4 linked regions of the Homo sapiens genome follow. The protein of the gene in region 1 purifies or fractionates together with the protein of each later gene. This does not show direct contact. Each region holds a gene or a part of one and is shown on either strand. Other genes may lie near its edges.

Region 1 (4,527 bases):
AAAGAGAGGAATGCCAGTTACCTACTGCCCAATTTTTTAATTAAATAATTTTAGCAATTACGTAGAAAAATAATTTTTAAACATTGTCGTAAAGAACTTTTCTGGAACTGGTGACTGATTTAAGACATTGGAAGATCATGATAAGCTGCATATCTTCCAGTCACATGATGGTAAATCTGTGAGGAAAAGCAGAGTTTAATTAACAATCATTCTATAATTATACACATCAGTTAATAATTATACTATCAAATAATAATAAATAGTTTTAATGAACATTTCATTAGAAAGCCTCACTAGTATGTGCTTCAGCAGAATCTCCACCCTACTCACTTCTGATGGCGGTTTGCTTGGAAGAAAAGGTAGAGGATTGGGTAGGATGAGGTCAATCAGATGAGTTTTTATCTCCAGTTCTCAATTTGACTTTTCAATTCCTTTCTCAAAAAACACTTGTTAATTTATTCCAAAGACAGAGATGATTACTCACCTGCCTCTCAATGTCCGAGAGCAGAGTACTGGCACCTATTCGAAAGAGTTCTGGCTTCAGCCACTCATCTCCAAGCTCCTCCTTTACAAGAGAGAGCCAAGCAAGGGAATCCTTTGCACTGCGGATGCCTCCTGCTGGTTTAAACCCTATCTAAATGGGAAGGCAGAGAATAGAACAATCTTTATTGTTATTGGATTTCTTTTAAAAATAGTACTATGTTTATCAGAGTCTTGATTCTCTCTCTCCCTCTTTTGTTGAAAAAAAATCTTTTCACTTCATCCAGTGAAAGGGCTTAGATCAGTGACTCATGCTCATTCACACTACAAAACAACTTTTCCAAGATTTTTGGAAGAATGTCACTACTTCCAAACAGACACTAGTGAGGGTTAATAACCCTCATTAACATTTCACTTATTGGAAAGTCATAAACCTCCACCATCTAGACTATAGCTGTGAACCTGGAATAAACAAGGAAGGTGTCAATAAATAGGAAAACAGATCACAAAAGCAAAGCCCACTCATTCTACATTTCCACAAGTAAGCCTGTAGAGTCACTTCTCAGCCTTCATCTTGAGGTTCAAAAGACACGTGCATTTAAAATCAAAGGACAGAATCAGCAAGGCTGCAAGGTTACCCTAACCAAACTGGCAGCAAAAAAGCAAGGAAAGTTGACAGTTGTTTTAACCAATTTAACTGTGGGATTTTTTTTCTAAGTTGCAGGCACACACAGTTCTAAAAAGCTGGCAGACCAGTTACATAAGGGCAGTAGAAAAACACCGTGAGGGGCTCCTCATAGTCCAGTAGTCTTTAAGGTTGATCATAACACAGCTGAATTCAGCCAATATCTGATATTCGTAAATGATGTCCCTGGATCCATTAGGAAATGAAAGATATGTTCCATATACAATAAAACTCTGATTATCTGGATTTACATGTTTCAGGAACCTGACTATCCAGTAGAGTTGGGAATCTGTAGATGGTAGTGGTCAAAACAACACCTCAGAGCCTGAGTACTAAATCTCTCACGTTTTATCACTCAGGGCTATGACTGGTTGCACCAGCAGATGACTGCTAACAGAATGCTAGAGAAGGGAGACATTAAATGAATATATTCTATTATCAACCCAAGCAGGAAACCTTATAGTTTAATCCAAACTCCACCATTCCCTGGCCACACCACACCCAATCAATATTTAAGTCCTGACAATTCTACCTCCTTACCTTCCTTACCCCCTCACATGCACTCTTTCCACTGCACTCTCACTTGTTTCAGTTTAGACCCTTATCAATTCTCACAGGAAATATCAGTAAAAGTCTTTTAACTGGTTTCCCTGCCTCAATTACACAACGTCACACAACTAAGCAGTAGCAGTGCACGGATTCCAACCATATCTGCTATTACTCTGGAGCCCAAGCTGTAAGGTAGTAGGGGGTTAAGTAGGATGAGGTTATTTGTTGAGAATAAGCCAAAAAAATCAATTAGTTGATATTAGCATACATGTTAATCATAGGACCATTTTTGTCAATTAGGCAGTGCTTCTTACAGATTTCCTATACAGTTCAGTTTGTGTCAGCAAGTCTGTTTCCAGAGAGGTTCTAACATAAGTTTATCTTTTTTTTTTTTAAAGAGAATATGGAAGACATAAATCTGCAATGAAATCAGTTATGAAATATTAAACCTCTGCTTCTCAGGAGTGACACTAATCATGGTCTGGAAGCTAGCCTATCGCATTTTAAAACACCCTTAAATCAATGACGTAGAAACTTTATAGTCTAAGGGCTGCCCAAGCAACTTGTCAAGCAACCCGAAAGGCTGCACCTGATTTGCAAACACATACACAGAACCTATTTGTTTGAAATCGAATATGATTAAATGAATACAATTTGGCTTGTACCTGTCTTTTTCTTAATAAAACTAGGATGGACTTATTTATTACCGAGGAAAAGAATCAATACAATTAAAAAGAAAGGACTGAAAGACAGCAAAGTGTCCCTCCCTCTGTACTCTGGCCTGGAACACTGAGCACTTAAAAATTTCATTGACATTCTTTGCTTGTTGTCTAAGAGCTCTCCTGAGAAGGAACATACTCATTTTTCCATTCCTAGCATTTAACACAGGTTAACATGGCACATGGTTAACTACCCAATAAATGTTTGTTGAGAACAAAACAGGACTGGGTCCCCAATGGCAGGTCTGAACCCTGGCAATGGAACTTAATGCAAACAGATGCCTGAAGACTATGCCAGACCCAAAACCACCAGGGATGGGGGCCCAGGCATCTGTAAGTATGAAAAGCTTCACATTTGGTTTTGATATTCTTTGGCTAAGAATGAGAATCACAATCAAATGAGTGGTGGTAGTTTCAACTGAGGACCAAAGATAGATTTATCATTTTTACAGCTTATCTAAACAAAAACTCTTTTAACTTATTTGGATTGTTGCAGAAAGGATACCAGGTAGAGGTTATTCGAGTTGGGTCAGCTTTCTCATGTAGTTCACAATAGATATTTATCCTATTCGTAATTAAGATGTGAAGTTATTTTAAGTGAGAAAATTCTGGAAGGAGTTTATTTCCTCTCATAAAACAGTATATTAAAAAAAAGGTCACTATTCCAAAATAAACTGAAGCTACACTTACATATAAAGTCATCACATCCAATGGACAAAGGATTAAAGGTCTTTTTTGGGTTTCTATTTGGCACAAATCAAGAGACTGGATTTAAAAGATGCCTCTCAGGAAGGGAAAGTGTCATTAAACACACACACACACACACACACACACACACACACACACACACAACCTTGCTCTCCAATCATGTAAAAAAAAAAATCCTTTGAGATAATTTGCAGCTAAACAAGTAACTTGAGATGAAAAGGAAAATCCAAACTCATTTTTAAAAAAGCAACTCATACGCATTTTTCCTTTTAACTTCATATGTTTCAAAAAATATGTATCATTTTTCGAAAAGCTGACAAAAACTAGTATACACCCTCCTCAGCTTAACAGTCTTCCAAAGAGCACATCCAACTTCCATAAAACGCAAAAATTGATATTTAATTCAAGAGCTATATAACGTCTAGCTACCTTTTCCCTGCTGTTTCACAGCATTTCATTATTTTGTTTAATAAGTTCATCTCCTCGAGAATTTTCTCTTCACCTCATATTATTAAAAGTAATAAGTTTTTCTGGACCGGGGGTTTCCCAACAGAAAAACCAATTTATGTGTGTCCTTCAATAATGACAGGAAAAGATTGTTTCCCATTATATTGCATACCTTTCATATCACCACCACAGCTTATCATTCAATAAATGTTACTCTGCAATTCTTTCCATTCCTCAAGGAAGTTTAATTTCTGCATTAACCTGTTTTCACTGGCCAACACCTTGTGAGAAAGCCTCTGTGTTGCAGCAGAATTAGTTCGTTAAAGAACCCATTTAGGAATCTCTTGTCAGTGACAAAATTGTCTTCGGTTAACAAAAGGACATAAAGTGAGTTTACATCTTGATCACACATACTCACTCCCACACTCACAACTCACTTTCTGTTCATCACAATTTTTCTCCATCAGTGTGTTCTTTTATAATGAAAGGTAAATTAAACATTTATCTTAATAAAGGTAATTCATTCACAACTTCTCCATATAAAGACAGTTATTGTGGCTGTAACTAGTATTATAAATAACATTATCTTTACTCTGAAGAAAGATTTGCTGGCAATAATATACCTTGTTTCCAGTTTTCCAGAAGAAATCTCTAATGGCCCGCAGCATTACTATAGCTACCGGGAAGGTGGCATTTACTGTTTCTTTTCCAGTAGAGGTCTTAATAAAATCTGATCCTAAAACAAAAAGAGGAAAAACTCCATGTTAATTAAAGATTCTTTTTTTACACTTTTGAGTCAGTGGGAGAAATGAGTTGTGTAAATTTTTTCCCGAAGAAACCCAATGTTATTTTTCATTAATTATTGGAAAAACTAAAACCAAAATCTCCCTTTAAAATGATTATGTCCATACTTTTTCCCCCTTACCATCACTGTATTAG
Region 2 (3,500 bases), on another chromosome or scaffold:
CTTCTCTGCACCCCCCCCCCCACCGCCCCATCTGCCTACACATGCCACCCTGTCTTGGAGGCCCGGGTGGTGCAGCCTCACCCCTCCTGGGTGGTGCAGCCTCGCCCCTCCTGGGTGGTGCAGCCTCGCCCCTCCTGGGTGGTGCAGCCTCGCCCCTCCTGGGTGGTGCTGTACCCAGTGCATAAGCTGCCACCAGCACACTCCCGGGAACAGCACGGGCTGGGCAGCTGCTTGCTGGTACCACTGAACCTGCTGCCCTTCTGCAAGCACATGCGAGGAGGCAGCTTCAGAGCGCTCCCCGTTCTCCACTTGGTGTCTTGAGTATGGACTGTGTCTTCCCATTTACAGTTCAAAGCTCATCAGCGCACTGCAGCTGTGTACCCGATGGCTACTTGAGTGTCACTAATAGACGATGGTAGAGAATTCCTCATCACTGCTAGATCTGCTTATTCTGTTTCGGTGAAGTCTCTCCTTGTGCTGTCACATGAAATTCCCTTCCTGACACACACACTGCTCTTCCTGTTTGGAAGCCCATATGCACTCCAGGAAATTAGTCTCCCATCTTTACAGAAGCCCGGGTGCGGGGGCTCTGACGTCCCCCATGCACTGTGCGTAGAATCGAAGGCAGCAGCGTCTGTGCCACCCGAATGGTAACAGTAACAGGGACTTGCTAAAACCCCCACAGATTTTCAGTTAAAATCCTCGCTCTGAAAATTGACTAATTTTCATTTCCATTTAGCAAAGCCACTGTGAATTGGTGCTGAACTGGGTGGCATCTTTCCTGCCAGCTTTGAAGAGCTGAGACACTTCCTGACAGTCTCCCCCACCTAAACTAAAAGTTGCCAAAAAGAATCTGGACGTATAAACCACAGAGAAAACAGAACTGAGTGCTTTTAAACTATCTAACAGTTCTCCCAGGAAGGGGAGACCTCCAGGCATTTCTTCCTGGTTCAGTATAAAGAGAGACGGACAGAGACTGCATCAGCAGGAATATTATGTCCAAGAGCCTGGAGCAAGAACAAGTACTCTACCAACTCAATGACACCGGGCGCCTGATTTCCAGCACAAAGCGTGGCTCCACACAGGCAGATGAGGGCGGCATGAACCCTCCACGCCAGGCTGCCCTGTGGAGAAACACGAGCTGCTAGGAAACAACCCAACACTGACATCAGGGACTCAGGATGAGCACAACGAAAATGAGATGCGTTCTCCCCGTTTCTTCAGCATATGGCACCTCACTGCCAAAATAGAAGCTCTTGGCACTCCTGAGCCAGGAACATCGAACACACAGCAAGCTCTAACACACAGAACATCGCACCTGTCCACGACGCAGGATCCCAAATTACCCACTGCCTTTAATGACAAATGCCGTCATGATTCGGTTGTCGTCTGAGGGTGGGGGTGGGATAAACTCCCTTCAAAGGGGGACCTGGATGAAAATTACCTCTAACCTGTTAACTATTCTAAGAGATCACAGCATCAGTGTGACAGAACCAAACAAGCAAGTAGCTAGAATACAGCAGGTGCTCCACACACATGAGCTGACTGAAGCAGTGACTAAACGAACGGCAGGACACCTTGCTGCTCTGTTACCAGGAAGAGCACCTTAGCACGCTCTCATCTTCCCCTGCAGTCAGGACTAGGAGACAGGCTGGAGAAGGGGCACAAGAGTTGGGACCAGAAGGCCTGGGCTCAGCGCCCAGCTCTGCCCTCCCAGAAGTCTCCGGGAGGAGATCTCTGACACCTCCCAGGTTCCAGGCACTGTGGTCTGTGGAAACAGTGAGGAGTGGAATGGCCAGGGACGAGCGGGGCTGGATGCAGCTTGCTGAGGGCACTGTGCACAGCCGGGCGCAGAGCGAGGGGCACACAGGGACACGGCGGCAGGGCCTAGCCACTACTCCACAGATTTAGGACAGGAAGCATTTCTTCTTCCTGTAAGAGTTTTCTCAAAATAATGGTTTTTATGAGGTTTGACACAATATGAAGCTATCACACAAGATAATAGGAAAAGAATACTCAACTCTCCTAACTCACCTCTGTTTTGAAATCAAAGGAAAAGCACAAACAGTAGGAAAAAACATGGAGGGGAATGAGACACAGGCTCCGAGCAGGGGTCCCCGGGTCTCTGGTCTTGGCAGTTGCAGAGCGTGCATGGTACCTGCTGGTGCTGACGTCTGCCCGCCCTGGGAGCAGGCCCACCCAGCAGCGCCCAGTGCACCCGGACAGCCCAGAGACACGGAGGGCCGCCTCCAGAAGGCACCACTGGGTCAGTCACCCAACCTACCTGTGCCTCAACGGCATTGTCTGCTCCGCGGGCCACTGTGGTGTTTGACTGACTGAATGTAACGACACTGGAACAACATACTCGGTCAGTGCTCATGGATCAAGCGACCGTGGTCACTGTGAAATACTCCACCTCAGCAATGCACTCATGGTTCTGACCATCAGAACTATCCTGCACCGGAAGGAGTTTTACTGCGACTCTAGCAAACACATCACGAATGCAGGAGAGACTGAGGAGAAGCCCACGTGTTCCGATCAGTTACTCACTCTCGGGGGTGCTGATGGCCCGCTTGGTCACGTGCTCAATCTCGCCATTCGACTCTTGCTCCAAACTGTATGAAGACACTAGAACAGAAAAGGTGCTGCTATCCAGAAATACCCCCAAACAATAACGAAGAGCAAAACAACCACATGAGAAAACATATCTGCAAGACGTAAAGTCAAAATCACTAGTGTTTACAATTTTCTTATAAAGAGGCAATTCAGGAAGAAATACAAATAAATGATAAACATGAGAAAAAATGTCCATTCTCATTAGGATTCAAAAAAATAAAAGAGTCTAACTTGGCATAAGTGATAGAGGACAGTTTGACACTATCCAAAGTTTTTAAATATCCATGGCCTTTGACTGCTGGGAATTAATCCCAAGGATTACATACATACAAGGCTATATGTACAAGGATGTTTACTGTGATAGTATTTGTATGGAAAAATTGAAAATCAACATTTCAAAGAACAGGATAGTAATAAATCAGTTATTTCCACAGCCACAATGCTATAAAGCCACTGAAAGCAAAGGTTGGAAAGAAAAGTTCATGGAAGCTGTCTACTACATCTACTACATCTGACTTAAGAATGCAGGGAAACAGGTCATAAAACAATGCACGCACAGATCACAATTCCATAAACAAAACAAAACACGTGTGTGTAAGAGGAACAGAATAGCTGGAGGAAGGAATGCCTCACTGCTATGGGTGAGTTTCATATTTCACTCTATTTTCCAAATCTCCTAGAATAAATATGCATTGTTTTACTACCCATGATCCTAAAAGCCCAATTAACGTTATTTGTTTTAAAGATAAGAAAACACACCGCTTTGAAAGGAATAAGAAGTAGCTTGTTCTGTGTTTTCATCTGTAAATGCTCTACTGTGTCTGGCACCAAACATAAGGCTTACCCTGACTGCACGTTTTTTCTGGGCTTCCAGAATTTAAAGT
Region 3 (3,500 bases), on another chromosome or scaffold:
ACCTGTGTTTGAAGGCAATGCTTCAGGATTCCACTTAGTGTAAAACCGTTCTTCAGAAACCACTGAAATCTGGACAAAGGTAAAATTTAGCATGGATACATCTTAATTACAATGAATTTTTTTTAATAAAAATGCCCAAAGTTGTTGGCCATGTAGGTTTTAAGAAACAACATATAAACAAACCTGATGAGGCACTAATTCATCATAGCCTCTTGTACTTCCACTAGCACAACATGCCATAGAAACAATTGTAGTACTTGGAAGAGCATCATACGCTGATCTATGCTAGAAGACAACAACAACAAAGCAAAAGTTTGCTTTCTTTCAAATGCAAAGTGCTATTCTATAGCATAATGAAGTAAAAGGATAATTACATAAATAAATTCATAAGGTAAATTAATTTGCTTTTAAACAAGTAAAACATTCTGAAAACTATGTATTATAAATCAGTTATAAATCTAAGACACTATTTTGAAGTATATGGGTATGATTGTGACCAAGTGTCAGAGAGTTAAATATCAAAGCATTTAGCAAAATAAGTACATGAAAAAGATTAGGTGCTTACCACAATAGGACACTCATTATCATGCGTAATATCCATAAACAGGGCATGTGCAATAGCTGGCATTAAAGGCCTCAAACAGGGCTGAACAAAGGATCCAACAGGTTCTCCTCCATATCGGTAAACTAATCTGCCCTCTTCATGACTATTATATGCACTCATTGCCTCTGCAGAGCATTACAGAATATTTTAACAATCTTCATTATTTATGTCCAGGAAGAGGTTAGATTTCTTCTCATAAATGATTTTCAAAATAAAGACCACATCAATATTATAAAAAATAAAACTGCTTTAAGGATTTAAACAAATGTCTACTAGTTTAAGTGACAAAAAAGTTTTCCCCATAACTTAACTGGAGAAATGGCTCATGTAAGGAAAAGGGAACATATGTTGTTTACTGGGATGTAAGCTATACAAAATTGATTATAAAACATCTAAACATTACATCATATCTCCCAGTAGAAGATGAAAAACAGGTTTGCATATTTTCAACAACAAAAAATGGTTTTGTTAGTGAGTCTTCAGTTCATCCTACTGGTCTTTCAATTTGAAATGAGGTATCTTACCCCAAAGTAGAAATTTATACTGATAAAAATAGACTGAGTTATATTAGAATATGTCATACAAAGTATTTAGAAGAACATTAACTGTGTTAAAAAATTATTAAGCATTGCATATGAAGCTATTAAATCCTTTAATCTACTTAAACAAAAGCTAAAGTTTTAGAGGGAAATACACTCCAACAAGCCTACCTCTTATTAAGGAACTAATGCCCAGTCTAGTAACAAAGACATTGTCCAGATCTTCACTTCCTGTGAACAGTTCAGCTACTACATATAAATTGGGTTGCAAATTCCTAGCAGCATCCAACATGTACTGTAAAAAGCACAGTGACAAATGTAACAAATAAATGTAACAGAAAGAGAAAAGCAAGATAGGAGGAAGGAAAGAGACAAAAGGAGGCATGATTTGACATAGAAAAATATGCAGCAAGATATCAAACATACCAAAACACATAGAAACAAGAGAATTTATCAAGAGAAGAAAACGGTTAAAAAGGAAGATTAGATTTTGCAAAGATATTGAGACATGAGAGAGGAAAAGAAGAAGAAAAATGTTAGTTTCATATTACTAAATGTAAATCATAACACTACAATTCTGTTAGGTTTTCTCCCTGTTTTTTGTTTGCTTATTTATTTATTTATTTATTTATTGAGACCAAGTTTCGCTCTTGTTGCCCAGGCTGGAGTGCAATGACATGATGTGAGCTCACCACAACCTCCGCCTCCCAGGTTCAAGAAATTCTCCAGCCTCAGCCTCCCGAGTAGCTGGGATTACAGGCACGCACCACCACACCCAGCTAATTTTGTATTTTTAGTAGAGATGGGGTTTCTCCATGTTGGTCAGGCTGGTTGCAAACTCCCAACCTCAGCTGATCTGCCTGCCTGAGCCTAAAAGTGTTGGGATTACAGGCGTGAGCCACCGTGCCTGGGCCTGCTTGCTTATTTTTAAAACTTTAATCAGACTTAATTTCCAGGTGGTTGACTAAATAATTATTCATAAATTCCCTGCTGGTGAATTACTTAGCTGTTGGAAAGATTAGATTTGTCTGACCAGACTGAAGCCAGTTTCTCCTACAGATGATGATAAATAACTCTTAAAAACTCTTACACCTTACAATTTCCACTTGTGTGATTTACGTTTAACACTGGTGCTATCTATCTAGCTGTTTATTATAAACACTGGTTTATAATAAAAAATCAGATTGGTTCCAAACTGTTAAACACAACATTTGCACAAAGATTAATAAAATACTTGAAACTCTATTAGCTAACAAGTAGAATCCTAGATTTTGTAATTTAAAATTAAGTAAATTAAGTTTGAACATTCTTTTCTGCCATGTAACAATCTTAGAAGCATATTTCTTTTTGCTATTGCTAAAAGCACAATAAAATAAAGCCGTCATTTTTTGGAACTAAACAATGTTCTACCAGCTTAACTAATATTCACTAAATCCCTCCAAATCAAATCAATTTTTCATCATAGGACTTGAAATATATATTATAATACTGCTTTAATATTATAGAAATAGACATTTTTTAGGTAAGCACACATTTCCAAAGAACACCTAAGTGACACTGGTCACTAGTAAGGTATCAAAAATCTTATAAGCAGTGCCACTGTAGGGTTTCTAAAAATAACAAAAAAAACTTATAAGCAGGATGAAAATTATGAGTTTAATTACAAAGATTGTATTAGATAGAAGTTAATACTATAAGTATTGGCATTGTTCAGAAGTTATTGTAAAGAGCTCAAAGAGAAATAGACAATGTTTATGTTTACACTTATAATTTTTATAAATAATAAAAATTAAATCGATGAGGCTAGACTGGCTTCAATATGCTATAATGTTAATGTTTATTTTTTATTTAATTTAATTAATTAATTTATTTTTTAGACAGAGTCTCACTCTGTCGCCAGGCTGGAGTGCAGTGGTGTGATCTCGGCTCACTGCAACCTCCACCTCCTGGGTTCAAGTGATTCTCCTGCCTCAGCCGCCCGAGTAGCTGGGACTATAGGCACACACCACTATAATGTGTAATAAGCTATTCACCTTCACAGTCACTTCTAAAATATATTGAAAGCAACCTAAAAATAACAAAAATTAACATTTTATGTATTCACAGTAGCCAATATGATTGCACTCCATATTATCAGAAACGTGATCAACTTCCCTAAATTAAAATTTTAAAATTAGCTAGTTAAATATTTTATAGCCCAGTATTCCATAACAACTGCAAAAGATTGTTAGAATTATGCTAATTATGCAATAGTGATAAATACTACCACCAAATCAATGCTTGTGTCCAACTAGCAAAAGGAAACATTTACCTGCATAGTTTACTTAAGGAAAGCTAGGAAGGAACACTGAATTTCT
Region 4 (3,500 bases), on another chromosome or scaffold:
GGGCAATTTTGGAATCCCACAGAACCCTCTTCCCTGGGCCCTAAGGGAACCGGCATCGGGGTGTGCCCCTGTGTCCCAGGCAGGGGCGGGGCAGGGCTTGGGGGGTCACTGGGCCCCTCTCACCCTCTGTGTGCCCTCAGGGATCGGGCTGGCCCTGGCTGCGGCAGTGAGGGGCTATCGCTGCATCATCGTGATGCCAGAGAAGATGAGCTCCGAGAAGGTGGGTGGGCGTGGCCAGGGGCGGGGTCATAGGGCAGGGGATGAGGGTGCCTGGGCCAGGCGGAAGGTGCAGGCCACCGCTTTCCCTCCTGCAGGTGGACGTGCTGCGGGCACTGGGGGCTGAGATTGTGAGGACGCCCACCAATGCCAGGTTCGACTCCCCGGAGTCACACGTGGGGGTGGCCTGGCGGCTGAAGAACGAAATCCCCAATTCTCACATCCTAGACCAGGTGAGGCACCTGGGGCCTGGAGACAGGCATTCCCTAGGAGGGTCTCGGTCAGGGATGTGGGGGTGACTGAGGTGTCAGGGGTCAGCTCACGGGCTCTGCTCTCTTTCTATGCAGTACCGCAACGCCAGCAACCCCCTGGCTCACTACGACACCACCGCTGATGAGATCCTGCAGCAGTGTGATGGTGCGTCCCTCTGTCCATCTTGATTGCATTTATCCCTGGCTGCCTGGGAGTGTACACATCTCTTGCCCTCTCCTTGGTGAACTCCTATTCACCCTTCAGAACCCAGCTCAAATGTTCCCTCTGTGAAATGCTTTTCTAGAGCATTTCTCTAGAACAATTTCCTCCCTCCGTTGTGCCCTCTTGGCCTCCGCCTGTGGTTTACCTGTAATAGCAAACACAGGGCATGGCTGTATTTGTTTACCCAGCAATCTCTGCAGGTCTGCAGGGGCTCCTCCTGCAGATAATGCAGACAGCGAGTCTGTTCAGGGCCCAGGCTGGTGCTGGGCTCACAGCTTGGACTTCATTTGGGATCATGCCCTGACTCGGCATCAAATTCATCTGCAGAACAGAGCTGGTGACATCTGCGATGAGCTCACTCTCTGTTACAAGCATGAGGCCGGCTCCTTGGGCCCTTTTCCAGGGACTCGGTGCCAAGGCCTGTGGGGGTTGGTACTGAGGTTTTCCCAAGAGATCCCTTTAGAGATAAGTTGCCAAGAGGTTGGCGCCCTGGCTTCCTATTGGGAATCCGGTGTTGGCATGGGCTGGAGTACACCCTCAGTCCGTGCCCAGGAGCCGGGCTGTAAGGTCCAGGCATTTGGTTGTTTGGGCTTTATGTGTGAGAACTCTCTCATTTGGCAAAAACAGTCCTGTCTCAGCATGGGTGCCCAAGCTGCTCCGTCTCGCTGAGTCTTTCCCTGCTGTGACTTCTCCACCAGATGCCCGCGCTGGCGGCCAGCAGTGTGAGCGCCCAGCGAGTTTCTGCGCTGAAGCCTAAAAGACTGATTCCATTTCCTGTGTAAATTCAGTTAACTCACTCACACCACGCAAACATCCAACAGCCCACGGAGGTGGTTAATTCACAGCCTCCCTCTGCCCGCCCTCAGCGCCTGCACCCCCCGGACAGGGTCCTGTCTTTCTGCATCCAGCCAAATGGGGGTTTTAGGGGTCGAGTGTCACTGAGCAAAGACTGGGCTGGGGTGCCCCAGGCTGCCTGTTTCTGAGGCTTTCACAGACCAAGGGCAGCAACGAGGGCTGCTCCAACTGGAGAAGAAGTTTTTCTTTTGAACTTTTTGGTTACCCACCGTGGTTTGGGCTGAGTGTGTTTTCAATGATTATTACTATGAGTGATGGGCTGGCCAGGCAGGGACCCAAGAATGTTATCCGTCCACCAGGGAAGCTGGACATGCTGGTGGCTTCAGTGGGCACGGGCGGCACCATCACGGGCATTGCCAGGAAGCTGAAGGAGAAGTGTCCTGGATGCAGGGTGAGTGGTGTGGCCGGGCCGGAGAGGGGCAGTGCGGAGTGGCCCCGGCTTCTGAGCTGAAAGCTGTCATTCCTCACGGTCTGCTCAGCACGCTGTCTCCCGCGGTATTTCTGCGCTGCCTGGGAGGTGTTTGGGAAGACAAGGGTGCTTGACACATAAGGGACCAGCAGCTCGTGACCCGAAGGAGCTGGGGCTGGGTGCTCGCTCACCGGCCAGTGTCTTGGAGAACCTTCCTGCGCTGAGTGGGGGGTCGGAGTTCCAACTGGGGGCCTCTGAGGATCAGCCAGGAGCTCTAAGTCCTCTGGTCCTGAGTCTGCCCCTCAACTGGGGCTTGTGGGAGTTGGGAGAGGGTTCCTGGACTCGGGGTTAAGAGCAGGTCTGAGGACGGGTGCCTAGAAAGGTCCCGCTGATGAGACAAGGGCGTTCTCTCCCTGTTGCTTGCCCTTGAAAAAGACGTCACTGCCCAGCAATGCCCTTTGTCCCCAAAGGCTCTGCTGCTCCGCCGCAGGGTGGTCTGTCTGGACTGTCCTGGGGGCCCCGCTCCGAGAAGCACCCCGGGGAGGTCAGTTCCTCCCAGGCACCTGCCTTTACTTCTGAGCGCCCTGCACTGAACATTTAGGTCATTACCGCTTTAATACTTGGAGCCTGGGTTCTTGGGTTTCTCATCCTGCCTCTGAGGCTGGGAACAGGCCACCACCCACAGGCAGATCATTAACAGGCAGTTGTTAACGGCGGTATTGGCCACTCCCATAATAGAATATCGAGGCATGTCCAGGCGGGGCTTTTGCTGGCCTTGAGCCCTGAAGCCGCGCCCTCTGCAGATCATTGGGGTGGATCCCGAAGGGTCCATCCTCGCAGAGCCGGAGGAGCTGAACCAGACGGAGCAGACAACCTACGAGGTGGAAGGGATCGGCTACGACTTCATCCCCACGGTGCTGGACAGGACGGTAGGTCGAGTCCAGAGCCCGGCCACAGTGCCGGTGCAGCCTGTAACTCACCCTCACACTGGGGAGCCTGGCTGACCCTGGGCCCCAACCAGCTTCTCCACTGAAACAGAAGGGCAAGCCCCGCACGCATGGTGAGAAGCTGGTCTCGAAGGTCGAGACAAAGTAGACTGGGGGACGATGTCCGCACACGTGGCCTGACCTCACCAAGGGATGTAGCCCAGGTGGCACAGGCAGGGAGCAGGGAAAACGTGTGAAAATTAAGGCCCCGGAAAAGTCTGTTAAGAGCCAAAAAGCTGACTTTGGCCTGAGGGAGAGCAGAGACCGAAGGGCCGGTGTGGGTCACACGGATGCTCAGTGGGGCTGGCGGGCAGTTTTGCTGTCTGCAAAACGTGTTGGAACTGGAAAGTCTGCAGACGTGCCGATCCCAGGGGGAGAGGCTGGGGTGAGACCTCTGGGGTCCTACCGCCTAGACACGGGGTCCACCATGAGGCTGTTCACCCTCTTGGTCACGTGGGAGCGGCTCCCACGCTGACGGGCTGTGGTGGGGTCCTGCTCAGGTGGTGGACAAGTGGTTCAAGAGCAACGATGAGGAGGCGTTCACCTTTGCCCGCATGCTG

What was found. Proteins that work in one complex are often made in the same cells at the same time.
Region 2: the proteins of DERA (region 1) and NCAPD3 purify together in Homo sapiens (co-immunoprecipitation; one large-scale study listed by IntAct). This does not show direct contact.
Region 3: the proteins of DERA (region 1) and AGL fractionate together in Homo sapiens (co-fractionation; one large-scale study listed by BioGRID). This does not show direct contact.
Region 4: the proteins of DERA (region 1) and CBS fractionate together in Homo sapiens (co-fractionation; one large-scale study listed by BioGRID). This does not show direct contact.

The regions. Positions count from the first base shown.
Region 1 is NC_000012.12:16,032,339-16,036,865, reverse strand, and holds part of DERA (deoxyribose-phosphate aldolase), read right to left. Parts: intron 4,325-4,527; coding exon 4,212-4,324; intron 635-4,211; coding exon 485-634; intron 177-484; coding exon 120-176; 3' UTR 1-119. UniProt on the Homo sapiens protein: Catalyzes a reversible aldol reaction between acetaldehyde and D-glyceraldehyde 3-phosphate to generate 2-deoxy-D-ribose 5-phosphate. Participates in stress granule (SG) assembly.
Region 2 is NC_000011.10:134,154,468-134,157,967, forward strand, and holds part of NCAPD3 (condensin-2 complex subunit D3), read right to left. Parts: coding exon 3,461-3,500; intron 2,629-3,460; coding exon 2,551-2,628; intron 1-2,550.
Region 3 is NC_000001.11:99,877,861-99,881,360, reverse strand, and holds part of AGL (glycogen debranching enzyme), read right to left. Parts: intron 1,439-3,500; coding exon 1,315-1,438; intron 730-1,314; coding exon 566-729; intron 286-565; coding exon 184-285; intron 70-183; coding exon 1-69. UniProt on the Homo sapiens protein: Multifunctional enzyme acting as 1,4-alpha-D-glucan:1,4-alpha-D-glucan 4-alpha-D-glycosyltransferase and amylo-1,6-glucosidase in glycogen degradation.
Region 4 is NC_000021.9:43,062,336-43,065,835, reverse strand, and holds part of CBS (cystathionine beta-synthase), read left to right. Parts: intron 1-140; coding exon 141-220; intron 221-314; coding exon 315-449; intron 450-563; coding exon 564-633; intron 634-1,844; coding exon 1,845-1,936; intron 1,937-2,757; coding exon 2,758-2,883; intron 2,884-3,440; coding exon 3,441-3,500. UniProt on the Homo sapiens protein: Hydro-lyase catalyzing the first step of the transsulfuration pathway, where the hydroxyl group of L-serine is displaced by L-homocysteine in a beta-replacement reaction to form L-cystathionine, the precursor of L-cysteine.